Linked DNA regions of Homo sapiens: region 1 is linked to region 2. The links come from fine-mapping of genetic effects on gene expression. A gene starts in region 2. The other region holds a variant in brackets. All regions are shown on one strand. Distances are from middle to middle.

Region 1 (5,488 bases), 24 kb after region 2:
AAGGCTCTGCCTGCCCGCCCCCCTCCCCCAATTCTGGGCCAGGGCTGCACCAGCTGCAGCTTCACCCCCTCTTGTGCTGTCTTCGGAGGAGCCTCCCTTCCTCCTTTGCTGGCGCCCCCACCCCCTGGAGATAACAGATGGGTCTAAATTTAAGGCAGAAGTAATTGTGGAGCAGCTGGCGATGCTGGAGTTGGCGCCGGGAACAGTGACTTGATGCTTGCTGGAGTTGAAGGGGTGGGGGGGCGGTGTGGGCTCACCTGGTGTTACCTGGTGGCTCAGGAGGGTACGCAGCCAGGCAGGGGGTTGACAGGGGACCACCCCACACTCCCTGAGTCATATGCGCAAACACTCTGGGTGGGGCAGACCTTGCTGTTCCCACAAAGCTACGCCTCCCTGGGTGCTAAGTACCTGGCGGGCGGAAGAGGGCAAGGGGTGGATGGCCTGGGTGGGCGCTGATGTGGGCCCTCAGGTCCAAAGAGGTGGGCACAGTTGGCCCTGGCCGTGGCAGGTAGCTGGGGCCCTGGTGAAATTGGACGAGGGTGGTGACATAGTGTTTTGTGGCCCTTGTTCCAACTAGAACCATCTCCCTAAAGCTGGCAGAGGCCATGGGGGTGCCCAGCTTGCCCCCCTGCCTGAGAGAAGCTGGATGGAAAAGTGGGACAAGACAGCTGCCTCCCTTGGGGGTGCTCCTGGCAACACCCCAGTCTCAGGACACCCCCAGGACTCTGCCCCGAGAGAAGCCGGGACTGAGCTCTGGCTATCACCTTCCCACCTGCCCCTCTGCTTGCCCCTGGGGCTGGGGTTTGTCCTAGAGGGGACAGGGAGGGGTGTTGAGAGTGGTCTATCAGGAAGGCCCCGGATGGGGTCACCTCCCAAGTGGAATGCAGTGAGGTGGAGCGGGGAAGGGGGGGTTCCGAGGCGCGGAGGAGGGCGCCTCATCCGTAGGAACAAAGGAAAAGTCGGTTACCAGCTGCTCTGACGTCTCAGCCTCTTTTGCTCAGACCCAAAATAGCCCAGGCCGGATGGCAGCCCCCAGAGGAGGCAGAGCCTGCCTTGCCCGGGAGAGCCCCCCACTCATTGCCATCTTTCCTTGAGACTTCTCCTTAACTCTGTGCCGCCTGTGCCCTAGAACCCCCAACATGAGCCCCCTCCTCTTAGCGAGAGCCTGGGACTCCGCCAGGTCTCAACTGCTCAGCTCACGGGTGGTGACTCAGAACCGGTCCCTATGACTGTGCATGACACCGCAGCAGGAGACGGTGCAGGAGGTGGCCTGCAGGAGCCCAAGGTGTGGAGCAGACAGCTCTGCTGCCCCATGCCCGCCCCACCTGCCAGCAGTGAGAGACCCACTCCCCTGCTCTTTAGAGCCCTCCGTCCCCACCCCACAATCAGCCACCTCCTGACCCTGAGCAGGAACAGCCCACAGAGGGACACACAGTGACCCAGATACCTCTGGGCGCACAGACATCCGTCTCATGCTGCCATCCAACAAATCTCTCAGGCAAGGAGCTCAGCGTGGTGAGCCCTGGGCGTCCCTCTCTCCCTCCTGCCCTTCCTGAGGCAGTCCACCCTGCTCCCACCTGACCCATTTTGCCTTCTGAGGGCGGGGCACTGGCTTAGTTGGTGTGGCACTGACCTGGGTTCATGCACACTTTGGGGCTGTGAAAAGATTTACTCTGGGTTCTTGAAGATGCCAGTGGGCTTGGGGGTGAGGGGTCATAGACCAGGAGGCCGTGCTGGAGGTGAGAAGAAAATCTGACCCCGGGCACCTGGGTGGCCAGCGCTTGCCTCCCTCAAACACCTGATGGCTGCATCCCTGGGGCTCATGGTGAGCCCCCCTCCAGGGAAGGGCACCTATGCCATCAGCCTGGCATCTCTCAGTGTAGTAAACAACATCTCAACAGGAACATGAGGACCGGGTCAGGGGGACCTGTCTGGGGACAGAGTGCGAGCCTGACACACAGGCTCCCAGTGTGGAGGGAGAGGGGTGACTTCCTGGAGCCCTGAGAATGCCCGCCCCGGGGTGCCACATGGCCAGGTGCCAGGGCTGCCAGCTCCTTCCGGAAGCTCTGCCTGCTTGGCCAGCTTGCCCTCCCACAGCGCTGACGACTTAGAGCTGCCATCTGCTCCCCTGGGAGGCGAGGGGAGGGGCGGGGCTGGACCGAGAGGCCTTCCTATTGATCACAGACAGCTTCCTCCTTCCCTCCTTCCTTCCCTCGCTCCCAGAAGCCCAGGGCTGCAGCCAGCCCAGTTGCCTTAGAAAAAAGCCAGTTCGAAATGAAAAAAAATACCTTCTTGGGGCTGGGCGTGGGGGCTCATGCCTGTAATCCCAGCACTTTGGGAGGCCGAGGCGGGCGGATCACCTGAGGTCGGGAGTTCGAGACCAGCCTGACCAATATGGAGAAACCCCATCTTTACTAAAAATACCAAAAATTAGCCGGGCGTGGTGGCGCATGCCTGTAATCCCAGCTACTTGGGAGGCTGACGTAGGAGAATTGCTTGAACCTGGGAGGCGGAGGTTGCAGTGAGCCGAGATGGCACCACTGCACTGCAGCCTGGGTGACAGAGCAAGACTCCGTCTTGAAAAAAAAAAAAAGAAAAAAGAAAAGAAAAAAGGAAAAAAGCCAGTTCGGCTGGGCGCGGTGGCTCATGCCTGTAATCCCAGCACTTTGGGAGGCTGAAGCAGGTGGATCACGAGGTCAGGAGATCAAGACTGTCTTGGCCAACATGGTGAAACCCCGTCTCTACTAAAATACAAAAAATTAGCCGG[G/T]CATGGTGGCGCGTGCCTGTAATCCCAGCTACTTGGGAGGCTGAGGCAGGGGAATCGCTTGAACCCGGAAGGCAGAGGTGGCAGTGAGCTGAGATTGTGCCACTGCACTCCAGCCTGGCGACAGAGCAAGACTCCATCTCAAAAAAAAAAAAAAAAAAAGAAAAAAAGAAAAAAAAGGCCAGTTCACCTGGGAAGGGCGGGGCCGATCGCCTCTCCCATCACCCAAGTCTTTCATGGAGACCTGGTCTGGCCGGCCTGGGATGCTGGGTACTGACCCCCCAGTTCCAAGCCGGGGACAGCTGCATTTCCCAAGGCTTCTCGTGAAACCCTCCCGACCCTGGCCCGCCCAGACACTCCTAAGCCCACCAGCCATGAAGGCTGCAGAGGTCCCGTGAGGCCTCCCTGGCAGCAGCCCCTTCCCGAGGCTTGTGGGGCCTGAAACCCGTCCCCCGCCCCACACACTCACTCTCATCGGGGTTGGGGGATGCCAGGATGGCACTGTGCTTCCGCTTCACCTCCTCCACGTTCTCTGCGATCTTGTCAATGAAGCCTCGAATCTCCTCCACCTGCGGACCAAGGCCAGGTGGTCAGGAGAAGGAAATCAGGGGAGAAGCCTTCTGGGGCCCAGAGATGGCCCAGAGTAGGGCTGCGGTCAGGGCTCAGGGGGAGGACGGGCCAGGCTCCGGGTGCTGGGGTGCAGTGGGGGTGCATCCTTCCAGACCCAGATGGGGAGGAGTGTGATCCCAGATTTAGCTCCGCTCTGAGCTTCCATCTATTCACCCTCAAAACGGTTCATTCGTTGGCACCCCGGAGCTGCTGAGCCAGGTGCAGGTGTGAAAGAGCACTGAACCTGGCTCAGAGGCGAGAGTGGCCCCCCAAGTTCTGCCAGTGTGCGGGAAGGGTGGGGTGTGCTGGCTCCCACCTGCTCAAAGAACTCATCCATGAAGCGGTCTCGGTCCACGGTGACAGCGACATCATCATCATCATCGCTGTCCTTGGCCTGTGCGGGGTTGTGCACACATAAGTGGACGTATGTACAGGACCCACCTGTACACACGCAGGTGCCCAGGGTACAGCGCCAGGGCCCTGCCCCTCCCCCTCTCCCTGGGGGCCTCTGGGCAGGGACAAGAACAGGCCTGGCTGTTCCGCTCCCAGCCACAGTAAGATCTGGAGGACCACTGGGGGCCCGGCACAGAGAGAGGAACCTTGCCTGATACACTGGTGTCAAGGCCAAGTCTCAGCCTCTGGGCCAGGGACTTCCTCCCTCACCTATCTGCCTGCCCCCTCCCTGTGGCTGGGGAGGCAAGCGAGCCTGGGGCCGGCCGCTCTGTCTGGGCCCTCTGGGTCCCCTAGGCCCCTAGGACAGCTGCCTGGAAAGTGCATTCTCTACTCTCCTGGCCCTGTGGTTTACACACACACACACAAACACATACACACATCTGTAGAGTTGAGGTCTTGCTGTGTCACCCAGGCTGGAGTGCAGGGGTGCAATCACAGCTCACTGCAGCCTTAAACACCTGGGCTCAAGCGATCCTCCCAACTCAGCATCCCGAGTAGCTGGAATTATAGGTTTCCACAACCATGCCTGGCTCCAGTGGTTTTAATTCAGGTGGAGCCCAGAGGTCCCAAGCTCCCTTTCCAGAGTGGGCCCTATAAGGGGAGACCTGCCTACTGTGTCCCAGCCCTGGGCACCACTAAACCCCAGTCCCGAGGTGGCACGGATCAGATCTCTTAGGAATCTCCTGTGAGTCTTTTTTTAAAACAGTTTTTAAATTTAATTTTTATTTTTGTAGAGACGGGGGTCTCACTGTGTTACCCAGGCTGGTCTTGAACTCCTGGCCTCAAGCGATCCTCCTGCCTCAGCCTTCCAAAGCACTGGGATTGTAGGTGTGAGCCACTGCACTTGGCCTCCCTGTCGGTCTTGCCATTGGACCTCGGTCTGCCTCCTTCCAGTCCCCAGACCTGGGCCCAGCAGGCACAAGGGGACAGTCATGTTGCCACTTGGCTTGGGTCCTGCCTTAGGCCTCAGCCACAGTTACAAGCCCCACTCCACTGTCCCAGGACCAGCTGTACAAAAGCCACCCCCATCGTGGGGCAGGGGTAATCATACTTCTGACTTCCCAGCATGCTGCGCACAATTATTACTGTCTGCCTCATACCGCCAGTTGGCCAGGGTCAGCCCACGCTGCTGGCAAGGCCAGGTCTCTCTCTGCAGCCAAGGCAAGGATATCCGGGGTGGCCACCCTGGGGCAGGGACTGAGGTCTCTCAGCCTGGGGCTCAGGGCTTGTTCCCACCTCTTTTATTTTTATTTTTTTATTTTTTGAGAGAGTCTCGCACTGTCACCTAGGCTGGAGTGCAGTGGTGTGATCTTGGCTCACTGCAACCTCCACCTCCTGGGTTCAAGCAATTCTCCTGCCTCAGCCTCCCGAGTAGCTGGGATTACAGGTGCATGCCACCATGCCCAGCTAATTTTTGTATTTTTAGTAGAGACAGGTTTCACTATGTTGGCCAGGCCGGTCTCGAACTCCTGACCTCAGGTGATCCACCCGCCTCGGCCTCCCAAAGTACTGGGATTACAGGCGTGAACCACCACATCTGATCTTGTTCCCACCTCATTTCTGAGTGCCTCACGGGAGTGGCCACTGACTAGCTCAGCACTGACCCCACCTCGGTGCTCTCGCGTCAGGACGGAGGCAGGTGGAGGTTGAGGGGCTGAGAGA
Region 2 (5,000 bases):
ACCTGGCCCTGCTAGCATTATGCTGTAATCCCTGTGGATTAGAACTATGGATAATAGGGCCGGGAGCAGTGGCTCATGCCTGCAATCCCAGCACTTTGGGAGGCTGGACGGGCAGACAGCCTGAGGTCGGCAGTTCGAGACCTCAGTCTGGCCAGCATGGTGAAACCCCGTATCTACTAAAAATACAAAACACTAGCCAGGTGTGGTGGGAGCCTGTAATCCCAGTTACACAGGAGGCTGAGGCAGGAGAATCGCTTGAACCCGGGAGGTGGAGGTTGCAGTGAGCTAAGATCGCACCACTGCACTCCAGCCTGGGCAACAGAGCGCAAGACTCCATCTCAAAAACAAAACAAAACAAAAAACCCCCCAAAAACTATGGATAATAAAGCATGACAGACCTCAAGATGCCAAATGATTTTCTCCTCTGCTGTCATGCCTACAGAGTAACTTCTCCAAGGTCACACATTAAATATGGGCACAGGAACACTCATTCCTTATGCTCAATGACTTTTTCTCACTCCTACATGCTATCAACATAAGGAGGAGTGCCCCAGGGGGCTGACCTTAGCGGGAGGAACGACAGGCTCTCCACCGATCCCATTCTTACCCTGGACCAGGTCTCACCTGCGGCTTGGGGAAGTCACAGAAAGACAAGTTTCGTACAACCCCAGACCTTTTCTTTTGGTAGTCAACAATTGGTCACATTGCACATTTCAAGGTTACAGAGGCCCACCATACACATGCGGGGCAGGAGGAGATAAATCTTGCTTGGGGCTAAACAATAAAGCTACAGCGAGTGTTCCAGAAGTTGACCACATCTGGAAGCAAGAAGACAGACTCTGGAAGAAGCACCCTAGAGACTCCAGGAACCCCCTTCACTCCTGGGCTTTCGGGACTCTACAGCGTGGGGCCTCTTTCTCAGACATCGAAAGGCCTCCTTTTCTGGACCACAGTGGAGCGATGTGCAGGTCATCGGCTAAGCTGGGCGGGTCGGGGAGGGCAGGGGGAGTACAGTTCCTTCGGATCCCAGCAAAGGTAGACTATCAATGGCCAAGGGTTCAGAGGCAGGAAAAAAGGCCGTTTCTGGGGGGTTGGCTGGGGACACTCCCCTTCCCTTCTCTCTCCGATTAAATATAAAAGCCGATGATGATGAAGATTGAAAAGATGAGGAAAATGGCAGCCGTGTCTCGGGTATCCTCCCAGCGGAGGCCTTTCATGGACCGATACTCCTGCCGTTTGCGAAGGGCCTCCCGCCGGGCCCTCAGGCGCCGTTCCCGCTCCAGTTGTTCCCCGTAGTGGGCCTGGTAGAAGGCGTCAAAGTTGAACATCGTGCGGTTGGCGCCGGGGGAGGCCCGAGAACCGTCGTGGGTCCGAGAGGTGGGCGGCGGGGTACGCGGCGAGCCGGGGTCGGGTGCGGGCGTCCTGGAGGGCCGGACGCCAGGTCCGCGCAGGTCCTCGTCGCTGAGTAGGCCGCGATCATACTTGCGACGGAGGGTGGCACTGCCCAGCACCACGTAGGCCTGGGAGATGCGCGTGAAGCGCTCGGCGGCCTCCGCGCTCCCGGAGTTGCGGTCCGGGTGGTAGAGAAAGCACTGACGGTAGTAAGCCGCCTTGATTTGGGCCTGCGTGGCTGTGGAGGGGACGCCGAGCAGATCATACAGCGCCGTGCGCGAATACGAGCAGTCGCCCTGGGAATAAGTCCTCGCTCCTAGGCCCAGGCTGGGTGCAGAATTTTGTGGAAAGCCACGGGCCTGCAGCAACCTCCAAGGTAACAGCCGCTGCCACCATCGCCAGCGCATGGCTGCCATGTTGAATTGATTCGGCAGGCGGTGCAAGAGAAACCGGCCAATGAGAGGAGTCGGTTGGTCGCCCTGTGGCCAGTCACGTAAAGGGGGGGGCGGGGCGGTCGTGGGGGTGGAACATGCGTATTACTAAGCGGTCGCCGGGCTGATGACATAAAAACCGGGTGCCGGCAGGCGCCAGTCGCAGGTGTGCTGCTGAGGCGTGAGAATGGCGTCCCGCGGCCGGCGTCCGGAGCATGGCGGACCCCCAGAGCTGGTAAGTCCCGGGGCCCGCGGACACCCCTCTCCCCACTTCTGCGGCCACCGCGTCTGAATTATTCCTCTACATGCCATTTTCTCTTTTTCGCAGTTTTATGACGAGACAGAAGCCCGGAAATACGTTCGCAAGTGAGGGGAGCCTGAATACTGCGGGGCGTCCGGGGGTCGGGAAGCGGCAAGTTGCCCCTGTTGCTGGCGTTGCCCGGAAAGGCCGTAGAATTTGGGGGTGCGGGAAGGGAAGGACCCGGGTGGGTGCCGATTTCTGTCTCTGGTAAATCAACTTTAAGTTGCCGACCTCTCTGGGCCTCGGTACCTCAGCGTTGAGGTAGGGGTGATCGCGCTTGCTTTCCGTGGGTGGTTTTCAAAGTCGAATGTGACAATTTGTCCTAAACATGTGGTAAAAGAGGCGCTGGGCGGTGGGTACGGGCGAGGGGTCAGTCCTGGTGGGGGGAAGGAAGTAATGGCCGTAGGATGCTTATCGTGGCGCCTTGTTGCCAATAAATCTCCAAGACAGCAGTTGGTGTATTATTGTCTGAATTTCATAGAGGGTAGTTTGTATAACTACTGAGTTGTAGCCAGGTGGGAGTGGCTCACGCGTGTAATCTCAGCAATCGCAGCACTTTGGGAGGCTGAGGCGGGAGGATCGCTTGAGCTCAGGGGTTCGAGACCAGCCTGGGCAACGTAGCGAGCCCCCGTCTCCGCAAGTAATAAAAAAATTAGCCGGGTGTGGTGGCTCCCCTCTGCCTCTCCAGTAGTTGGGACCACAGGCGCGCGCCACTACGCCTGGCTTTTTTTTGTAAATTTTTGTTGCGATGGGGTCTCGCTGTGTTGCCCAAGGTGGCCCAAGCCCAGGGCTCAAGCGATCCTCCCGCCTTCGTCTCCCGAACTGTTGGGATTGCAGGCGTGAGCCAGCGCACCTCGAGTCGTTAAAAAAAAAAAAAAGGGGGGGGGATGGGGGCGGGGGGAAGCTGGCGCGGTGTCTCACGCCTGTAATCGCAACACTTTGGGAGGCTGAGGCAGACGGATCACCTGAGGTCAGGAGTTCGAGACCAGCCTGGCCAACATGGCGAAACTCCAGCTCTACTAAAAATGGAAAAAATTAGCCGGGCGCGATGGCGGGTTTCTGTAACCCCAGCTACTCGGGAGGCTGAGGCAGGAGAATAGCTTGAACCCGGGAGGGGGAGGTTGCAGTGAGCCGACATCACGGCACTGCACTCCAGCCTGGGCGACAGAGCAAGACTTTGTTTCAAAAAAAAAAAAAAAAAAAAAAAAAAAAAAAAAAAAGATACTTTGTGGTTTTTCCGTGCTCTCTCACTGAGAGACTAGCCCTATTTCAGTAAATGGTTACTGGCCGGGCGCTATGGCTCATACCAGTAATCCCAGCCCTGTGGGAGGCGGAGGTGGACGGATCACCTGAGGTCAGGAATTCCGAGACCAACCTGGCCAGCATGGTGAAATCCCGTCTCTACTGAAAATACAGATATTAGCCGGGCCTACGGGAGGCTGAGGCAGGAGAATCACTTGAACCTGAGAGGCAGAGGTTGCAGTGAGCTGCGATCGCACCACTGCACTCCAGCCTTGGCGACAGAGTGAGACCCTGACTCAATAAATAAATAAATAGCTATTGGATACTGTTTCTTTTTTTTAGGGACAGGGTCTCTCTATTGCCCAGGCTGGAGTGCCATGGCATGATCCCTGCCGACTGCAGCCTCAAGCCATCCTCCCCAGCAGCCGGAACTAGAGGCACTCGCCACCACACCGGCTGAAATAGCTTGATAATTTTTTGTGCGTGTGAGACAGGCTCTCATTCTATCGCCCAGGCCGAAGTGCTGCAGTGGCTGCAACCTCGCCTCCCGGGTAGTTGGAACTACAGGCGCGCCTCCTCGCGCCCGACTAGTTTGTGTAATTTTTTTGTGGAGAGGGAGTTTTGCTATGTTGCCCAGGGATCTGGTAAGTTGCTCACGGGATCCACCCGCCTTGGCCTCCCAAAGTACTGGGATTATAGGCGTGAGCCACCAGGCCCGGTCCTTGCTGATGACTTTTTATGTCGATTATATGTTGAAGTGATATTTTGAACATATTGAGTTAATGGAAATACGTTATTAAATATATGGGGTTAAAAATATGACTCCAGAGGCCGGGCGCGGTGGCTCACGCCTGTAATCCCAGCACTTTGGGAGGCCGAGGCTGGCGGATCACAAGGTCAGGAGATAGAGAAATCCTGGCTAACATGGTGAAACCCCGTCTCTACTGAAAATGCAAAAAAAAAAATTAGCCGGGCGTGGCGGCGGGCGCCTGTAGTCCCAGCTGCTGGGGAAGCTGAGGCAGGAGAATGGCATTAACCCGGGAGGCGGAGCTTGCAGTGAGCCGAGATCGCGCCACTGCACTCCAGCCTGGGCGACAACAGAGCAAGACTCCGTCTCAAAAAAAAAAAAAAATATGACTCCAGTTTCTTTTACCTGTTTCTTTAAGTTTCTTCTTGACTGGCTATTGGGAAGCCATGCGTGGCTCACATTCTGTTTCTCACAGACAGTGCTGCTGTAGGTTTTTGTGCATTGTTGATCCTTCTAGATGAGAGAAACTATGGAGAATAATTTTTGGAGAAAATGTTTTCAACAAGTGCTAGAGCAGCCCAGCCTAATAGAGTTGCAGATCCCAGTGGTTGTTTATTACTAGCTAAGTGATTTGCTTTTACACATCTGCTTGGCAGCTGGTGCAATGATAAGTTGTTACCACAAAATAACATGGTCCTGAATTACATGGAATTTTTGGGGTCACTTTCGAATGGTTGAATTTGTTGATCCCAACTTAGAAGGGGTCAGAAAAGAGTACCTCGGGATGATTGATCCGTTTTTTGTTTGTTTTTAACTTGGCTTTTTTTTGTTTTTTGTTTTTTGGTCTGGGGGAAGTATTCACCCAGAACTCCTTTACCATGTCCAC

The links. PIP is the estimated chance that this variant, and not a neighbour inherited with it, causes the effect. A credible set is the group of variants that fine-mapping cannot tell apart.
Region 1: its variant is the best candidate, but not a certain one, in a credible set for the expression of BUD23 in whole blood (TOPMed, PIP 0.88).

What each region holds. Positions count from the first base shown.
Region 1 is chr7:73,705,356-73,710,843 of GRCh38, forward strand. It overlaps STX1A (syntaxin 1A), which reads right to left. Exons shown (of 10, transcript NM_004603.4): 2 at 3,690-3,767; 3 at 3,234-3,333. Among named protein-coding and RNA genes, the nearest start is that of MIR4284, 3.2 kb to the right of the region's middle. RefSeq lists a silencer at 1,736-1,945 and an enhancer at 1,792-2,544. The variant G/T (reference allele first, on the strand shown) is at 2,768.
Region 2 is chr7:73,681,616-73,686,615 of GRCh38, forward strand. It overlaps BUD23 (BUD23 rRNA methyltransferase and ribosome maturation factor), which reads left to right and starts at 1,982. Exons shown (of 12, transcript NM_017528.5): 1 at 1,982-2,058; 2 at 2,152-2,189. The coding sequence starts at 2,011. It overlaps DNAJC30 (DnaJ heat shock protein family (Hsp40) member C30), which reads right to left and starts at 1,838. Exons shown (of 1, transcript NM_032317.3): 1 at 1-1,838. The coding sequence starts at 1,808. The coding sequence ends at 1,128. RefSeq lists enhancers at 1,260-1,349, 1,590-1,759, 2,690-3,539, 3,540-4,389.